2 separate regions of the Homo sapiens genome follow, and region 2 is linked to region 1. Evidence: fine-mapped expression QTL. A gene starts in region 1. The other region holds a variant in brackets. All regions are shown on one strand. Distances are from middle to middle. Region 1 holds the start of TPRG1 (tumor protein p63 regulated 1). Region 2 has its middle 49 kb from the start of TPRG1.

Region 1 (5,392 bases):
CGATTGAGTAAAGAGGATTACCCTGCAAGTATCAACTGTCCTTCCTATTCTTTTATAGGCATCTAAATATTATGCTGCAGCAGTGTCATCTTGCTTAATACTTTAGCATTCAAGTCACTGAGTTTTGATAGCTAGCTGAAGAAAATATCCTGGGTAGGTATCAGAGCCAACGGTATGTTCTACTGAAGTCATCATATATCCTATATCTCTTACATAGTGAGAGGTTAGGAACAAATAATTAACTTCACCTCTTCCCTGGTGCCATTAACCTGTAGCCTGGTCTGTCATTATGTAGAACTAGGTTTCCGTTGAAAGAGAATGATTGAAAGGAATCCTAATACCTAAGAGATTGGAAGAGATCAGAAGTGGAAAATTCAAACACTTGGTAGCCTAAATCAGGTAAAATGGGAGCTGTGGAGGATGGGGGAAAACATGTTCTATCTACAGGAAGAAGTTGCTGCCCGGCCCCAGCACAGGTGTTATCCATGAGGGGATGTGGGTCCATTATTATCAGATCTCCTGATCTTCCTGAAAACAAGATATCTGGATTTTTTACAGGAAATTTCCTAGATATCAAATACTTTGGAACTAGTTTTATCTTGTTTAACATGGCAGCACAAACAAAGCACATCTGCATGCTGGATTCACCTGTGGCTGCTGCTCTGCAAGCTCTGGAGTAAATGAATTCTCGGACTTGACGCTGCCATTAGATTAAACAATGTTGAGTAAAATATCAACTATCACTTCAAGTTTTAAAAGGATCAAACTGAGTGGCACTTATTTAGGAAGATCCCAGAAAATATAAAAATCCAGACAGGCTGAAGAAAATGAAGATGCCACCACCTCTTGCCCATCTCCCCATCTTATACCTAAGGAGCAGCTCCAACATTTGGCCGAAGCAAATATTCCAGAAGAACCAAGTCAATAAAGAGAGAGGCTTCTCTGACAGATTTCCCTGCTCTAAAGGGCATGATACCATCTCCAGTAGATGCTAAGCAAAGGTCAAAGTGCCCTAAAACTCTTAATTGGAAGAAATCTTAAAGGACATCTAGTTACAGTCTCCAAAATGACATGGCTAATGCTTCTGCTTGGGACTCCTAGCACCATTCACTACATATTGTGGGCAATGAAAGAGTAAGAGACCCATATGTGACTTGCAGCTCCAATGATACTGGCTGTGTGACTTGTGCATATCACTTCATCTTTCTGGGCCTCAGTTTCTCTGTTTTGAATAAAGTAATCAATTAAACGATTTCTTCAGGATCCTTACAGCCAGAAAGACACCAAGAATATATAGAAGTTCCAGCCTGACCAACATGGTGAAACCCCGTCTCTACTAAAAATACAAAAACTAGCCAGGTGTGGTGGTGCATGCCTGTAATCCCAGCTACTCAGGAGGCTGAGGCAGGAGAATCGCTTGAACCCGGGAGGTGGAGGCTGCAGTGAGCCGAGATCGCGCCACTACCCTCCAGCCTGGGCAACAGAGCAAGGCTCTGTCTCAAAAAAAAAAAAAAAGAAGAAGAAAAGAAAGAAAAAGAATATATAGAAGTCTGCCAAAGATTATATAGCATTACAACCCAATGCATTTGTGGTGGCCCCAAGGGATGACTATCAGTACTGTCATAATAAACTCAAACAGACACACACACACATACACACATGCACACACACACAGAGGAAACATTTCCTTCCACAACTAAGAATGATATAACCTTTTGAGCATGAAAAGAAAAATGATAGCTAAAATTAGCATCTTAAAAAGTAAACTACATAATAACTGAAGATGAGATTTCCTTAAAACTGTAGAACAATGAGATACTATGATAGCTGTCACAAGAGAGGAAATTGCATGAGTGTATTTGAAAGGATTTGGGGGTGTTTTTCCCCCATTGAGATTTGCTTTTCTACATACCACAGTGTGACTGAAAAGCTAAAATATTTCCCCAGGGCCTGTATGATCTGTGCCTCACTACGCTGCCTCTGACATTTGGAGAGTGTCATTTAGCCCCGAATTAAAACCTGCTTATACAGAGATCTGGAGGATGTCTCAGGCGCCAAGTAGTCATCGCTGTCTCATTTGCCTATCACCTTTCAGTTTACAACTCCCCTTTACATACATGCCCTCGTTTGTTCTCTAAAAACAGCCCTGTTTGATGGGACCTATATATTATTATGAAATTTCCCTCAGATGAATTCAAAAATAACCCTCTCAAACTGCCTGCAAAGAAATAATCACCTTTTGTTTGCCATTTAACGGTTCAGAAAGGCTTTTCACTTCTTTTGGCTTTTGGGGATAAGGTATGACCTGCTGGGTTCTATAATAGAGGAAGAGGGAAGAAGGAATCAAATCTAATCTTGGCCTTAACCTGCTGATCCAATTGGAACAAATCACTTCAATTGACCAAGCTTCAGTTCACTAAGCCACCAAATGGAGAAAATTATACCCATCCTACTGCACTATAGGGCAGTTAAGATCAAAATCAATATATAGATAAGTATGTCAAGTGGCTTTATAGGCTAAAAAATGCTAGCCTACAAGCCTCATCAACCCTGGACAGTAAGGAAGAATAGGGAAATTTCACATGGTAATGCAAAACTACAAACCTAAACCAAACTGCAAGTCAGTGGGGGAGGTGACCAGAAACTCGGCTTAGGGGACAGAAGCAATTGGTTCATAGAGAAATAACCCATCTCTGCAGAACCAGTGACAAGCCACTTGATCTTACCTGACTAGGCTGGTCCTCAAGGCTCTTCTTTCTCTTTCTGCACAAAGGGGGCTAGACCACAGATAGTGGCCAGGAGAGGTGTGATTGGCTCAGATAAAGCCAGGCAAGACAGTGCCCTGTGCTGTGACCCCACTCAGTCTGAATCTCACTTCACCAAGTAGGCTGAGAGTTACACTGCCACCCTCAAATAGTCAAATGAAAGGACTGAGGATGTTTACAGGGTGGAACTCAACCCGTCAGAGGCAGAGAATTGGGTTTGTGGGTGGGGCCTTTCTTGTTCTGCAATGACACACCTTTACCTCCTGTCCTCTCCCTCAAGAAGTCCTGCATTTTTCTGCCAACTCCCTCTAATACACATCCAGCTGAGGGAGCAGGAGCAGCCTATCATCCATTCCTCCATGGCTTCTGTATGCCTCCAAGTAGTTATAATTAAGCTTAAGCCTGAGGCCTACACTCCTATCATTAATATTCTTTATGATGGCTTGATTTATTGGATATTTGTGATTTTAAGCATCACTACCACTCTTGTCAAAAATGTAGAAGACATGTAGAGCAGTGTATCTCTGAAAACAAACACATGTACACACAATCTCTGGTCAGTATTCCTATTAGGAAATGTGCCACATGATATTGTCTCTATGTAAGTGTGTATCCCCCTCCCTAGATGGGGGGCCCCTTGAGGGCAATGCTACATCTTATTCTCTCATATACTCCTCAAAACACCCAGCAGATAGTAGGTAATAAATAAATACACATTGAATTAATGATGATCCATTAATATCTATTTAGTGAATCCTGATCTGTCATTTAATGGCTTTGCAGCCTATAGCAAGTCATAATCTATCTTTCTGAGGTTTTTTAATTTTGGTCATCTGTAAGTTGAGAGTATCATTTCTCCTTCAGAAATGCAGATAGAACTTGAAAGGAAGCATATGAGAATAAACCTAGGATAAGATTTGACATAGCAACGGTGCTAAAAAAATGAAATAGAATCTTAATGAACACATTCTGAAACCTAAGCAAGTGTGTTCTACATACAGAGTTGGTATAAAATAAAGTATGAACTGCACAAGTAGGTGGATTGCTGAAAGAAAGGAGAGCACAGAAAACAAAATGCTGTTATGTGTATGATTGAATTTCAATCTTCTATCCTAAATTCTCTACTTCATTCAGCAGACTCTGGCCAAATCAGATTGTATTTGTTTGATGGCTGGAGGAACGGGTGTGCGCTGACAAAGTAAATTGGTTGAATTCCATTCTTTTAAAAGAAAAATAACTAATATTCACCCTTCAAAAAATGTTGTTTAAAGTTCCAGGAATACTGAGGTCATGAAGCGATTCCACAGGAAATGAAGTGCAAACTGGCAACTCGCCACTCAGGAGAGGTCACAATGAATAAACAGTCCTTTTACCTGCTTCCACCGTGTCGAGGACGTCATGTATACTAACTCAACAGTAGTTAACTGAGCAACTACCTTGAGCTTTCTCAGTTATCCACATAGACAAGGATATGAAAAGGAACCAAACACATTCTCTGGCATAAGGAGCTCAAGAAGATAAAATTTGTAAGTGAATTAGCATTGCACGATATAGAAGATGATGAGCACCACAGACAGGATCCTAACAAGTACTATGGTAATCCAGAGGAGGGAGCAACTCCAGGAAGGCTGCACAGCGGTGGAGGCGGCATTAGATCCGGGCTGTTAAGAAGAGCCAGGATTTCAACAAGCACAGATGGTAGAGTTGGGTATAAATGTTATTGGTGAGATGGACTCAGCCACAGTTACCTGATCAAACTGATTTATGCCCCCTCCCTAATACAGACCCCAGGCTGAAAAGAGAGTTTTACAGAACCGGTATCTAGGTCACACCACTTAGACGCCACAAAACTACAGGGCAATTAGAAATAATTGCGAGGCAAATACCGTTCCCACTCAGCTCCAAATGTCTTTATGACAGCTCAGGGTGGGGGCACAAAAGGCAGGAGGAGTGGAGACATGCTGGATCCCAGCCTGGTCTCTTAAGAGAAGGACTAAGCAATGCACTGCTGTTTGAAGTATGCTATTTTAAAGGGCAAGAAACTCTGTGAAAAGACATCAATTGTTCACACGGCATCCATCTAATTATCGTTAGGTTTCCAGCGGCCACTGAACACTCCTCCCAGCTCATGCTGAGCTCCGCCATACTGCAGCCTGCAGTAACATAATACATCCAGGAGGGGCACAAGCAGTAGGAGTAATGCCACACGGAAAACCTCAGCTCTGGTCCCTGCTCAGCTGCTCACTGGGATCAGAGGCAAGTAGCTTAGTTTTCCCCAAGCCTTGATTGCCTCTTCCGTGCAATGGGAGTTACAGTACAGATCCCACCAACCTCCCTGGGCTGTTGAGGGAGAAAATGAGCTCCTGGAGGTGATAAGAGCTTTGTAAAATTCAAAGTATTGGTATGAATGTGAAGCAATACTATGACAGAACATATGGCTATATATAAGAATTCACTTCATGTCTGTATTTCCAGGCATAGCAAAGGCTATGTACAGATCTCCCAGTAGAGGACATGCTCAACAGCCAAGGAGCAGGGAAGCACAGAATAATTTTTACCAGATTGGCCTTCAGAGATCATTTCTCTCTGTGTCCTGTCTCTTCTCTCTCTTCTATAATAACCTTTAC
Region 2 (5,392 bases), 49 kb after region 1:
TTTGATCCTCAAAAACAATACGGGAGGTTAACTGGGATTAATATCTCCATTTGACACCTGAGAATACTGAAGCCAAGGGAGAAAAAGAAACTTGCCCGAGGTTATATGTCTTGTTTGTGGAACAACAAGGATTTGACTTGCTCTGACTCTATAATACAGGTTTCCCTTCCAATGCTACATTATTATCTTAAAGTAAACATTAAAAACAATAAGAAAACTTTTTGTCTGAGTATAAGCAGACTTTTTTATGTAGTTGCCTAGAAATTAATTAAATAAATCATCCAATATTGGAAAACAAGAAGTAAAAGCAAACATTCAGAGCGAAGAGAGACCTAAAAGATTACCTACTAAATTGAAGGTAGAACAGATTAAAGTAAATCACTTAAGATCTCATTGCAAGATCTAATACTACTTTGGTCAAAAGTTTATTTAACTTTCAAGCTAATAAATTAAAAGTTTGGATTTATTTAACATGGGTTATTGTATAGAAAGATAGGTCTAGACTCTGCCATCATTTACCCATTGAACAATTTCTTATCTTGCTCCATGCCAGTAGTGGACCTTCCCAAATTGAATGTGAAAATATTTCAGTAGTTTGGTTTTATGGAGGAAAAAATAAAGATTACTATTTTTAGCAATGCCCATGAAATAACAAATGTTCATGTAAGATAAATAGTTTCCTCATACATAAAGTGGAGAGGACATTGCCTCCTGCTGCCAAGATTATTAGAGTATTAAATGAGTTAATGAAGAAAAGCTATATTAATATATGTACACGTATGTGTGTGTGTGTATATATATATACACACACACACACACAAAGTCCTTTGTTCTTAAAAAAAATGTCATAATATGTATACGTGAAACAAAAGAGAAAGCCCTTCTTCTGAGGGGATCTAGCAGAAGAATAATCTAAACTCTCTTGTTAATCTATGTCTTTCACTTTCCCCATCTCCCAGGGTTGTCACAGTACAGTTTGAAAGCCATTGCTTTAAATCACCATACAGGATGGAGCTTTTGTCACCCCTTCTGAGCTCCCCTTGCACTTTAAATATGCTTCTTTTCTAAGCCACTATGTTTTATTGCCACAAGGAATTTCTCTGCCTGCTTCTTCCGTTAGACTGAGGCTCCTTAAAGACAAGCACCATGTCTTATTCTGTGTACCTACTCCAGAGCCTCCCCAAAGCTGTCTCTGGCACACTGGAACTCATTAATTCATGTGCTCTGAATGAACACGTGAATTAGTGAGTCAATGAATAATAAGTAACTTTAAGAAGGTAATATTCTTAAAATATTACCTGAAAAAGCTGAATAATCAGAACACGTACAACGAAGTAAAGACAAGACTCTGCTGCATTACTCTAATGCATTTCAAATCCTAAACAATCATACAGCAGTACCACCTCTAATTGGCAAATAGGTGAGTTGCCAGCCTTGATGGGCCTGCCACGGCTGGCTGGCCAGGGTCTGAGCGAGAGAGACTCCAGAGCACATTTCCCGGGCACATTTCCAGTCCCAGGGAGAATCACTCCTGTCAAGTTTATCAGCCAAATCCTCCCGATTACCAGAGGTCAAGAGCACACGCAGCAAAGCATTTCTCTACTCGCTTAGGCCAAGGAGAGACTTGATAGAGTGCCAGCAAGTACAATGAATGTTGTACCTTATAAATGCTGATAAGACAACATGTTCCTTTTAGCATTAATTGCTTCATTCAGAAGAAGCCATTTAAAATCCGAGTCTGGTCTTTTTCCTTGATGAGCAATTTCAGGCTGCCTACCAAAGCTTTTGTTTGTTGGGAGGAGAGAGGAAGAGAAAGCATTTTGTTAAGGCATTTTAATTTTCATATTTAATGAAACAGATTGGGTAGCAGGTTCCTTTCATTTTATTTTTCTGTTCCCTGAATACCTTCTTGTACATTACACATTCTGCCGGAGCTTCCTGCAAGAACTTTTCTACATTTCACAAGTTAAGGCTGTCAAATGTTACCCACTGAATCAAATATATTTCTTGCACCAATATTCAGCTATTATTATTGTAACAGACCAATCATAAATCTCAAAGCTGGAGAGAAAGGGAACATGTACTGATGTTTCTCCATATTCTCTTGAGCACATAAAATTATATAACTCTCTAAAGCCCTCTTTTTATTGCTGCATCTAAAATGTTTTGCATGCTTTACAGGATAAATTCTTTAAAGGGGCTATTTCTCTTCAGTAAAGGAGAATTAATCAATCCACCAGAAATGTTATTTGTTTTAATTAATTAGCAGAGATGTAGAGAAAAACACCACTGGACTGAAGTGAGAAGGCAAGCTCACTCATTTCAGCTATTATTTATTAGAGCGTTTTCACTTTCATTCTCCCTGATACAAGGAGGACAAAGCATTTGCCTGTTTTTAGAACAAAACTAGAATAGTGCCTGGCACATAATAAGAGCTCAATCAATATTTGTGCATAAATGAGTAAGATAATCTAACTATTTGACTTAGTTCCTCCGGGCCTCAATTTTTTCATTTGTTAAAAAACCAAAAGGACTGATAATCTCTGTATTTCTTATCTCACATAGTTACCGTAGGAACAAATGAGATAAATGATGGCTTTGTGAAACTGACAACTTATGCACATAAATAAGGGAGCAGCATCATTAGTAATAGCAGCAGGTCTAAGCCTAACCTTGTGAACTTGGCCAAGACATTTCAATTATCTGGGCTTTTGTTTCACAACGATAAAAGGACAGGGTTGGACTAGATGATCTGTAAGTTTTCTTCTAGCTCAAACTAACTAAGATCTTTTAACCAGTCAACAAAGACTCCTTTAATACCCATGCTACGCAAAATACTCTTCTAGGAAAAAAATGCCCAGGAATAATCCAAGAGATTTCAAAGATAAATTAAAACCAATAACTTTTCTAAAATACTTTGTCCTGGTTATATTTTGAAATATAAAAGCAGGCCATTGGGGAAAAGCATAGGGAGATGTGAAAACCAGATTTCACAAGAAAAGTCATTTGGGAAAATCAAAAATTGAGTTAGCTTCTGGTATGCATCTTGTGGAGATCATTCTGACCTTCCAAACTGCTTGTGTAACAAACTTGGATTTAACATTTGGTGTTGGCTTTTACAATCTACCTAATGAGAAATATCTTTAAAAAGAGTAAGAACATGCTGACTAAAAACATTCAGAAAAGA[C/T]GTCGGAGAGAAAGTGAAAGAAAGAAGGAATATAAATATACTATTGTCATTTAAACAAGCTACTAGTACTTCATGTGAATGTATAGACAACTCAAAGCAATTCTAGGCATGTGTGCATACATACATACACAAACACACACACACAGCTAAGGGAACCAACCCATCAACAAACATAAATTGTATATAAATACTAGATACTAAAGAAAATTAGACATATAAAAACACTGCTTTCTCTCAAAGGCAATTACAAGATCCTGCATGATATAAGGCCAAATATCTTTTCAACATAACATGTCCAATTTAAAATCATACCTTTACTCCTTGAATCTGCTCTTCTTCATTGGGCCTATTTTGAAAAATTTTATCTCAATCCATCATATTTTCTACACAAACCAAAAAACACAAAAGCTTTTCTTGATTCCTGCTCTCTCGCTTCCTAAGTCCAAGGAGTTATCAGGCCTTATTGTCCCAAATGACCCCCATCAAGTCCAAAAGAGGGCATGGGGAAACCTCTGGAAGGAAGAGTACATTTGTCAGGATAGATCAGGCTCTGCTTCAAGAACAAATAATTCCAGTAATAGCAGTAGCTTAGCACAACAAACATTTACTTCTTGTTCAATTACAGTCTGATATAGATTGGTTCTACTCAGTGGTTCTTCTAAGCTATGAGTCAAAGATTCAAGTTGCTTCTGCTTTTTAGCTACAAAATAAACAATCCTGTCTTCCAAATTCAACATAAAAAAGAGAAGGAGGGGTACAGAATATGTCAGAAATTTTTTAGAGCTCAAGGTTTTTTACTCACATTCCATTGGCCAAAATTCCATCACATAAAACTCAGTCCTAACCTAACCTCAAGGAGGCTGAGAAATATTGTCTTCCGGAGTATCCAGGAAGAGGAAATGATGTGGTAAAACAGGGCATTGTCTCTGCCACAAGGGCTGTTACGTAAATTAGATTATTTACTCTACCTAAAGAGATTTTTCAGGTACTAAAATCTACAAACTCTCAGGTTTATCTACCTAACTGACAAAATCCTTTCATAATTAAACTCTTTCTATAATTGTTTTGGTTTTATCCTCTAAGAAAATAAAAATTTAGAGATCTGTATCTTTATTTTCACCTACCACATTCTGGGACAGAAGATTTTTGCTCAATGTAGTACTGCGTCATCTAATAATTTACCTTTAGCTTTCCCACACATGTCCTTAATTTTAATTGAATAAAATGCTTTATTATTTATCTAAATTTTCCCACTTCCTGCACATTCCTCTGAAACTGCAGAAATACTAACAAGACCTGGTCTCAGATGGGGTGTGTGACCATGAGAAGAATTTAGAAGATTTTCAAAACACACACCAAAATTTATTGACCTATATCGAGGTTTACCAGGTTTGCCTTTCAGCTATAATTTAGATGAAATTTCCTGAGCCCTCTTAACAGTTTGGCTGTTCAGCCTTATTTAGCCAACCAACCCTCAGTCATCTTTTAGGATTAATCCTAGACATTACTTTTCTCTGGACAACTTTCCTGGCCTTCAAAGTCTGGTTGGATGTTCCATTTATGTGAATTCAAAATACACTGTATCACATATCTTTCTCATAGCACTTAACACACATTATTATAAGCATTTTTTTAAATGTCAGTATTCTTCAATGAACCACTGACCCAAAGATTCACATATTTTTTCCTTTCCAGTATGCCAGACTCTTTGTCCAGAATCTACATCTTGGAACTTACTGAGAATGAAATATATTATCATTAGATTAATTGAAACAAAGACATTTACCATAACTGCAGGTGGGGAGGATTCACTGGGGCATATTCTCAACTTCTCTTCTTCTAAAAGCAATTTTCTTGCCTTTTCTTAAAGTTTAGAAAATTCAGTGGTGGCGGTTCTAGTCATCATGTCACTTGTTTTCTTTCATCTAGCATATTAAAGCTCTAAAAATTCCCAACTCTATTTTGAGCCAGTTAAGCACTGGATTGCAAACAACACAGCCTCCCCACCCTAATTTTAAAATGCATTCCTAGCATAGTGGTCATTGCCACTGCCTCTGACAGATACTGATATTTGTTTGGGGTTTGTTCGTTTAGTATGTTTTAGTTTGGGGCACAGTTAATGATGCCCTCTCAGGTCTAATAGGTTACCACTTGTCTCCAAGACACTTGACAACTTGCTCATGGAGTGCTCTAGATGCCACTGCC

Evidence for each region. PIP is the estimated chance that this variant, and not a neighbour inherited with it, causes the effect.
Region 2: its variant is the best candidate, but not a certain one, in a credible set for the expression of TPRG1 in whole blood (INTERVAL, PIP 0.57).

What each region holds. Positions count from the first base shown.
Region 1 is chr3:189,169,466-189,174,857 of GRCh38, reverse strand. TPRG1 (tumor protein p63 regulated 1) reads right to left here and starts at 2,887. Exons shown (of 6, transcript NM_198485.4): 1 at 2,727-2,887.
Region 2 is chr3:189,119,969-189,125,360 of GRCh38, reverse strand. It overlaps a transcript of TPRG1 not described here. Among named protein-coding and RNA genes, the nearest start is that of TPRG1, 49 kb to the left of the region's middle. The variant C/T (reference allele first, on the strand shown) is at 3,188.